Regions from separate parts of the Homo sapiens genome. Here region 1 is linked to region 2. Evidence: fine-mapped expression QTL. Tissue or cell type: monocytes after R848. Region 2 holds a variant in brackets; the other region holds the start of a gene. All regions are shown on one strand. Distances are between the middles of the regions.

Region 1 (4,384 bases), 140 kb before region 2:
AAATGTACCTGGAACCCGCTGGACTGATGAACCCTGCAGAGTCTAGCCGTGAACATGCACCTGGGTCCTAGGAGTCTACAGTTCATAATCTCTCTCATGCTTAGTGTTGCTCTTTTTATGTTGCTTTTATCTATTCATTATGTAAATATTTACTGAGCGTCTTCTATGTGTACCCTAGCATGGTGGGACCTGGGGTAAACCTGGGGTCCAATCCTGCTACCACTGAATACCTGTATGAATACCTGTATGACCCTGGCCAAGTGAATTAACCTCTTTAGGCCTCAGTTTCCTCATTTGTGAAACCTAGGTAATAAGCGCAGTTACCTCATTCGATTCAGAGGATGTCTGCCAAGCACAATGGGTGCACAGCTAAGTGCTCAATAACTACTAGTGGTCATGGTCACTGCTCTAAAGAACTTGGGGGCAAATGCAAGGTGCAGGATGGGGATGGAAGCAGACAACTGCTCACAGCCGGTCTACCCCAAACCCTTTTTCCAGGACATGGTGACCTACTTCATGAACCTGAGCCAGGCGAATGCTCAGGGGACGCCGCGCTGGGAGCTCGAGTACCAGCTGACCGAGGCCTATGGGGTGCCGGACGCCAGCGCCCACTCCATGCACACAGTGCTGGACCGCATCGCTGGCGACCAGAGCACACTGCAGCGCTACTACGTCTATAACTCAGTCAGCTACTCTGCTGGGGTCTGCGACGAGGCCTGCAGCATGCAGCACGTGTGTGCCATGCGCCAGGTGGACATTGACGCTTACACCACCTGTCTGTATGCCTCTGGCACCACGCCCGTGCCCCAGCTCCCGCTGCTGCTGATGGCCCTGCTGGGCCTGTGCACGCTCGTGCTGTGACCTGCCAGGCTCACCTTCTTCCTGGTAACGGGTAACGGGGGCAGCGCCCAGGATCACCCAGAGCTGGGCCTTCCACCATTTCCTCCGCGCCTGAGGAGTGAACTGAAATAGGACAACCGAATCAGGAAGCGAAGCCCCAGGAGCTGCAGCCATCCGTGATCGCGCCACTGCACTCCAGCCTGGGTGACAAAGCCAGACTCTCTCCAAAAACAAACCAGAAACAGAAAAGAAATGACGACCCAAGACCCCCCTACAAGCATACTTCTTTTGCGTATTATGTTTAACTCACAAAACAAAGCTCATCATGCGTTTGATTCTGTGTTGTGTTCCTTTTCTTTTCTTTTGAGACGGAGTCTCGCTCTGTCGCCCAGGCCGGAGTGCAGTGGCGCTATCTCGGCTCTCTGCAACCTCTGCCTCCCGGGTTCAAGCGATTCTCCTGCCTCAGCCTCCTAGCTGGGACTACAGGCGCGCGCCAACACGCCCGACTAATTTGTATTTTTAGTAGAGACGGGGTTTCGCCATGTTTGCCAGGCTGGTCTCGAACTCCTGACCTCAGGTGATCCGCCCGCCTGGGCCTCCCAAAGTGTTGGGATTACAGGCGTGAGTCACCGCGCCCGGCCTCTATTCCCTTCCGTATGGAAATGAGGTTAACTCATTTGCAGGAACCTAACGCCCGCCCTCCCCCGACTCGGATCGCTGGCGTGAACCCAGCGGCCCCGTGCTCTCCGGGTATCCCTGGATCGAGGCGCACGCGTTGTTGCAAAGTCTCGCACTTAGGGATTAGAATGTGCCTTTGCGTTTCGTTTTGTTTTGCAACAATACAGGTGTGAGGGATCGCAGCCCTGGTCCAGGCTCTAGTCTCCCCGCCCTCTCGCTTTCTTGGGCCTCCGGGCGCCTCAAAGGTAAAACTAGGCCATTTGAAGCCTGCGAAGCGAAGGGCAGTCGGTCTTCAGGCCTAGCGGGCTTGGCTGGGCTGGGTCGGTGGACCCCTGGGCTGGCGGCGGGAGCAGAGCATCGAGCGGCTTTTAGCTGGGGTTCGGGCGGAGGACCTGGGACAACCGCGGGCCTCGCTCCTCCCCGGACGGGGCGGGACGGGGAAGTCCCGCCCACCAGGCCCAGGCCCCGGGCCGCCCCGAGGGCTGCGCCCACCTCCTTCCTGCCTCGGCAACCCCGGGCCCTGAGGGCAGGCCCCAACCGCGGAGGAGCAGGAGAGGGCGGAGGCCGGCGGGCCATGCCCTGGTCGTCCCGCGGCGCCCTCCTTCGGGACCTGGTCCTGGGCGTGCTGGGCACCGCCGCCTTCCTGCTCGACCTGGGCACCGACCTGTGGGCCGCCGTCCAGTATGCGCTCGGCGGCCGCTACCTGTGGGCGGCGCTGGTGCTGGCGCTGCTGGGCCTGGCCTCCGTGGCGCTGCAGCTCTTCAGCTGGCTCTGGCTGCGCGCTGACCCTGCCGGCCTGCACGGGTCGCAGCCCCCGCGCCGCTGCCTGGCGCTGCTGCATCTCCTGCAGCTGGGTTACCTGTACAGGTGAGTGCTTCGCCCCGGGAGGGGAGGAGTGTCGGAGCCCAGCACCTCCGTCAGCTGGGTCACCTGTACAGGTGACACGCCATATGCCGGGAAGGGGACTGGGAGAGGGAACCAAGTCCTGTGGGCGCCTGGCCTACAGGTGAGCGTGCAGCCCTTTACGGAAAGGGAATCCCGGTAGACTGCCTTCATTCTAGCCCTAGCTTTCCTGGCACAGGCGAAGAAACTGAGGCCCAGGGAAGAAAGGGAGGCGCATGGGCTTTGAAGTCGGACCTCTCAGGGATCCACTTCTGGCTTTGCCCCCTCTCGCCTCACTTCTGCATTTCTCTGAGCCTCAGTTTCCTCCTGCGTAGAAAGGAGGTAGTCACCCTGAGACAGGTGTGACGGGCAGGCCTGTTGTGAAGAGTGAGCGAAAGAATGAGAAAGTGCCTCGCACAGTGCCTGGCCTGTAATGGCAGGGGCTGCGGACTCAGTTCAGCATCCCATGTTTCAGCATGGGCAGGGCCTTGGGAAGTCACTGACCTCTCAGTGGGGCTGTTTGGTTGCTGTTCCCATTGGGATGGGGATAGCGCCTGCCCGTTTGGTGAAGATGCAGTGAAATGACATCTGTCCACTGCCCTGGCTCAGAGTGAGCACTCAGCAACCTCAGCTGGCTTCTTGACCTGGGCCTCCCTGGGAGTTTCAGCAGCCCTGACCCCACCACAGCGCTTGCCCCTCACAAAGGCCGCCTCTCACCCTGTCTGCCTGGTTGTATTCTTCCCCCTGAAACTTGGCTTCCCACCCCAGACCCAGCAAGAGGGCAGAGATGGCCTCTGACTCATCCATGCCCATGGAGCCAGCCAGGGCTGGGCATAGGCTGGGTCCTGGAAAATGTGTGTGGATTCTGCTCCTTTTTGGACCTGGTGGAGCCTCGTAGAGATGGGAAAACAAACCCAAGGCTCAGAGGCATGCGACAAAGTCAGGGCAGAGGGTGGTGTGGGTTGGGATGGGGTGGCCAGGGCCAGGATCTGCTCTTGAATCCGTTTTTACAAACTCTTGAGATCTGGCCTTGACAAAGCCACACGGAGTCTCCAGGAGTGGAAGAGAGGAGCTTTGAATGTGGCAGTTTTGCCTGAGGGATTATAGAGACATCAGAAAACCCCGGGTGGGCATGAAGGGGTGCAGTTGTTAAGTCCTGGGCAGGCCTCCATGAGCCGTGAATCTGTAACTACCTTATGCATCTTTGTGGCCAATATTTCTGCTGAGCTTGAGTCAGACAGACTGTACTAGCTTTGGCTTTGGAAATGGGTCTCTGTTCCTGCCTGTGAATTGGCCGAGGCAGGGGTCCCTGCTAGGTCACTGGGGACCATAGGCAAAGGCTCCTGCTGAGGGAGAACCCCAGCCTGTCCTGCCTGCCTGCTCCTCAGTGTGTTCTTGTGTCCTTCCAGGGGAAGTGACAGTACATGTCTGGTGAATGAGCTTGTGATGAGTGAACGGGGTTCTCTCCCAATAGGCAACTGAGAGCAAAGTTCTGGGTGGAGGGTCCTTGGTGCATCCTCCACTTACTCTTCATGCCAGTGGGTACCCCAGACCTGTCTGTCCAAACTCTGGACTCTCTTAACTCCGCCCCAATCTCCATCCTTAACCACTCAGGGCCAGCCTCTTAAATGGGATCCCTCCTTCCAATCTAACCCTCCTCCAGCCCCTCCCCTGTGTGGCCGGGGCAAGGCAGAGTCTGATTCCATCTGGCCTGTGCCCAGAAGTGCCCAAGAGGCAAATGTCCTCTTGCCCACAGGACCCCAGGAGATCTTGGGCACACTAAAGTTTGAGAACTACTGCCTCAGGCAACTTTATAGCATGCCTTTCCAATTCAGGTTTGGATCCAAATCCTCATTCCAGTACTTATTAGCTGCTTATAATTTTTTGTTTGTTTTTTAAAAAGAGGTAGGGTCTGGTCAGGCTTGGTGGCTCATGCCTGTAATCCTAGCAGTCTGGGAGGCTGACGTGGGTGGATCACTTGAGG
Region 2 (4,384 bases):
AATCAACCCGTAGACAGAAATGTGTGTTGAATGTGTTCAACTGGGACTTAACACTCTTTCCTACTTCATTCTAGTGAACCTTCCCATACTGCAGAGGTGGAAGTTTATAAATGGCATTTCACAGGCTTCCATCCACGTAGGATTCTGGGTGAGAACTAGATATGGTCCATTAGATATACTTAGGTAAGATTTGTAAGGTAGAAATGAGGAAGAAGCCATTTTCCTGCAGTTGGCTGTTTCTGTTGGCCAATATGATCATTGCCGGAGACATGGGGTTTTTCTGAGGCAGAATATCAGTTTGTTTTGTTTTGTTTTGTTTTGTTTTGAGAAGGAGTTTCACTCTTGTGTCCCAGGCTGGAGTGTAATGACACGATCTCAGCTCACTGCAACCTCCACCTCCCAGGTTTAAGTGATTCTCCTGCCTCAGCCTCTCAAGTAACTGGGATTACAGGCACCTGCCACCACACCCGGCTAATTTTTATATTTTTAGTAGAGATGGGGTTTCACCATGTTGGCCAGGCTGGTCTCAAACTCCTGACCTCAAGTGATCCACCCACCTCAGCCTCCCAAAGTGCTGGGATTCCAGGTGTGAGCCACCAAACCCAGCCCAGAATTTCAGTTTCTAGTCTCTCTGAGTCTTGAAAGGTAGTAGCAGCAATAGGCCGGGTGCAGTGTCTCACAACTGGAATCCGAGCACTTTGGGTGGATCTCTTGAGGCCAGGAGTTCAACACCAGCCTGGGCAACATGGCAAAACCCTGTATCTGCTAAAAATACAAAAATTAGCCAGGCGTGGTGGCAAGCGCCTGTAATCCTAATTACCCGGATGGCTGAGGCACAAGAATCACTTGAACCTGGGAGGTGGAGGTTGCAGTGAGCCAAGATAGCGCCACGGCACTCCGGCCTGGATAACAGAGTGAGACTCTGTCTTCAAAAAAAAAAAAAAAGAAAAAAATGAATGAATGAAAGTTACTAGCAGCAATGATGGCTTGCAAAAACAGTACTTACCCAGTCTTCTTCTTCTTCTCCTTCTCCTTCTCCTTCTTCTTCTTCTTTCTTTTTTTTTTTTTTGACAGTCCCACTCTGTTTCCCAGGCTAGAGTGCAGTGGTGCAATCTCGGTTCACTGCAACCTCCACCTCCCAGGTTCAAGCGATTCTCCTGCCTCAGCCTCCTGAGTACCTGGGACTACAGGCATGCACCACCATGCCCTGCTAATTTTTGTATTTTTAGTAGAGATGGGGTTTCACCATCTTGGCCAGGCTGGTCTTGAACTCCTGACCTCATGTGATCCGCCCGCCTCGGCCTCCCAAAGTGCTAGGTGGCGCCCAGCCTACTATATATTATTTAGACCAGTAGTTCTCAAAGTATGGTCTGGGGACCTCCTGGAGACCTCCAAGACAGTAACAGGGAGTAAGTGAAATCAAAACTACTTTAAAAATGACACTAACTCATTATTTGCCTTTTTCACTCTCATTCTTTCAAAAGTGTGGTGGAATTTTCCAGGGGCTATGTGCTAATTCATTGCTAATGGCTAATGGAATGTGTGCTGGTATATTCTTGCATTTTCAAAATTCCTCAATTTTAATCTCTAAAGGAGAAAATATAAATAGCTGTAATCATATAAACAAAAGCTCTTTGGGGTCACCAGTAATTTTTTTTTTTTTTTTTTTTTTTGAGACGGAGTCTCCTTCTGTTGCCCAGGCTGGAGTGCAATGGTGCGATCTCAGCTCACTGCAACCTCTGCCTCCTGGGTTCAAGCAATTCTCATGCCTCAGCCTCCTGAGTAGCTGGGATTACAGGCACATGCCACCGCATCCAGCTAATTTTTTGTTTATTGTTTTTTGGTTTTTTTTAGTAGAGATGGGGTTTCACCGTATTGGCCAGGCTGGTCTCAAACTCATGACCTCAGGTGATCCACCCACCTCGGCCTCCCAAAGTGCTGGGATTACAGGCGTGAGCCACCACATCCAGCCATCAGGGTCACAAGTAATTTTTAACAGCATTAAGGGATCCTGATATCAAAACATTTGAGAACTGCTGACCTAA[G/A]TCATTGTGTATATTCATTCTTGTACTATTTGCAGTGGCTCCACTTTGGCCATTTCTGGATGCCTGATTCCCACACACGGCTATACCCATGCCATGTTCAACACCCTCCTACCAGGATGCCTTTCTATTTTGATTAAAACACTTGAGACAGTATCTTCTTGCACATGACCAGTAACAGCTGTTTTGGCACAGCCTTGGGACTCCACATAACTGTGAATTGTCCTCATGGCCAACACAAGACCCACAGACCAGCCCTTTGCCCTGCTGGTGCTGGATTATCTTTTCTGGCTGACTCATCTGGGATACCTGGTTTCTGCCCCTGCCTTTGCCCTGTTGAGCACTAGACTGACCCACTCTTGCCTCCCGTTCCTACTCTTGGTTCCCCTCCTGTTCAGGTGGCCGCTGCTGTGCGGAGCAGTTGTCAGCTGCCCATAACTAAGCTGAGTTAGTTGGGTTAGCAGGGGCCTGTATCCCTGTCCAATTCCAGAGTGAGCTGTGTCAAACTTAGGTTGCCTGGAAGTTTCCTGCCAACCAGATGATGGATTCATATTTGCTTTTAATCATGGCTATACTGGCCGGGTGCCATGGCTAATGCCTGTAATCCCAGCACTTTGGGAGGCCAAGGTGGGTGGATCACTTGAGGTCAGGAGTTTGAGACCAGCCTGGCCAACATGGTGAAACCCTGTCTCTACTAAAATTACAAAACCTAGCCAGGCATTGTGGCACACGCCTGTAGTCCCAGCTACTCTACTTGGGAGGCTGAGGCAAAAGAATCACTTGAACCCAGGAGGCGGAGGTTGCAGTGAGCAGGATCGTGCCACTGCACTCCAGCCTGGGCAACAGAGCGAGACTCCATCTCAAAAAAAAAAAATTATGGTTATACCTTCCCCCAAGAATGCCATTATCTGTGTATTTGTACTCTATAATTAGATTTAAAGTTAAAACATAAACTGTTGGCCAGGCATGGTGGTTCACACCTGTTATCCCAGCACTTTGGGAGGCTGAGGTGGGTGAATCACCTGAGGTCAGGAGTTCAAGACCCACCTGGCCAACATGGTGAAACCCAATCTCTACTAAAAATACAAAAACCAACCAGCCATGGTGGCGCATGCCTGTAATCTCAGCTACTCAGGAGGCTGAGGCAGGTGAATTGCTTGAACCCAGGAAGCAGAGGTTGCAGTGAGCCAAGATCACACCATTGCACTCCAACCTGGGCAACACAGCAAGGCTCTGTCTCAAAAAAACAAAAAACAAGAACAACAACAACCAAAAAAAAACTGTTAATAATAGATGTTTCTTGTGGATAGAAGGGACCATGTCATATATTCTGTCAACTTCACTTTTTTTTTTCTTTCTTTCTTTTTCTTCCCCCATAGTAAGAATGTATAGACTTTCAAGGGCTCTGGAAACAGATTGTGTTTGAATCCTGACTCTCCCACTTACAGTTGTGCGCACTTGGACAGGTCAAGTATTGCTCAGTGCCTCAGTTTTCAGTATTTCTTTCTTTTTTTTTTTTTTTTTTTGAGACTGAGTTTCACTCTTGTTGCCCAGGCTGGAGTGCAATGGCATGATCTTGGCTCACCGCTCACCGCAACCTCCGCCTCCCGGGTTCAAGCAATTCTCCTGTCTCAGCCTCCCGAGTAGCTGGGATTACAGGCATGTGGCACCACACCCAGCTAATTTTGTATTTTTAGAAGGGACGGGGTTTCCCATGTTGGTCAGGCTGGTCTCGGACTCCCAACCTCAGGTGATCTGCCCGCCTCGGCCTCCCAAAGTGCTGGGATTATAGGCATGAGCCACAGTGCCCGGCCAGTGCCTCAGTTTTCATACATGTAAAATGGAGATTTAAAACAGCACTGGCTGTGTGCAGTGGCTCACGCCTGTAATCCCAACACTTTGGGAGGCCAAGGCAAGTGGATTACATAAGGTGTGTTGGCTAGACCAGCCTGGCCAACACAGTGAAACCCCGTCTCTACTAAAAATACAAAAATTAGCTGGGTGTGGTGGTACATGCCTGTAATCCCACCTACTCGGGAGGCTGAGGCAGAAGAATCTCTTGAACCCAGGAGGCAGAGGTTGCAGTGAACTGAGATCGCTCCACTGCACTCCAGCCTAGGCGACAGAGCAAAACTCTGCTCAAAAATAAATGAATAAAAATAAAATTTCAAATAAAATTTAAATGCACCAAAAAAAGAAAAGCCTTTATCTCATAGAGTTAAATAACAAATACATGTAAAGTGTTTAGAATTATGACAGATACATACATATGTAAGTGATTAAAAATCAGAAAACAATGGACTTATAAAAGCTGCTATGGGCCGGACATGGTGGCTCATGTC

Which allele goes with the higher level. Positions count from the first base shown, and alleles are read on the strand shown. Sizes are in standard deviations (SD) of each study's normalised expression.
In carriers of allele G in region 2, the expression in monocytes after R848 of the gene that starts at base 1,996 in region 1 tends to be lower than with A alone (large effect, 1.8 SD a copy in Quach 2016).

What was found. PIP is the estimated chance that this variant, and not a neighbour inherited with it, causes the effect. A credible set is the group of variants that fine-mapping cannot tell apart.
Region 1: it holds the start of XKR8, and the variant in region 2 is the best candidate, but not a certain one, in a credible set for the expression of XKR8 in monocytes after R848 (Quach 2016, PIP 0.68).

The regions. Positions count from the first base shown.
Region 1 is chr1:27,957,978-27,962,361 of GRCh38, forward strand. It overlaps XKR8 (XK related 8), which reads left to right and starts at 1,996. Exons shown (of 3, transcript NM_018053.4): 1 at 1,996-2,385. The coding sequence starts at 2,093. SMPDL3B (sphingomyelin phosphodiesterase acid like 3B) reads left to right here. Exons shown (of 8, transcript NM_014474.4): 8 at 499-1,175. The coding sequence ends at 861. RefSeq lists a silencer at 1,867-2,256 and an enhancer at 1,937-2,500.
Region 2 is chr1:28,097,000-28,101,383 of GRCh38, forward strand. No RefSeq gene overlaps it. Among named protein-coding and RNA genes, the nearest start is that of EYA3, 11 kb to the left of the region's middle. The variant G/A (reference allele first, on the strand shown) is at 2,046.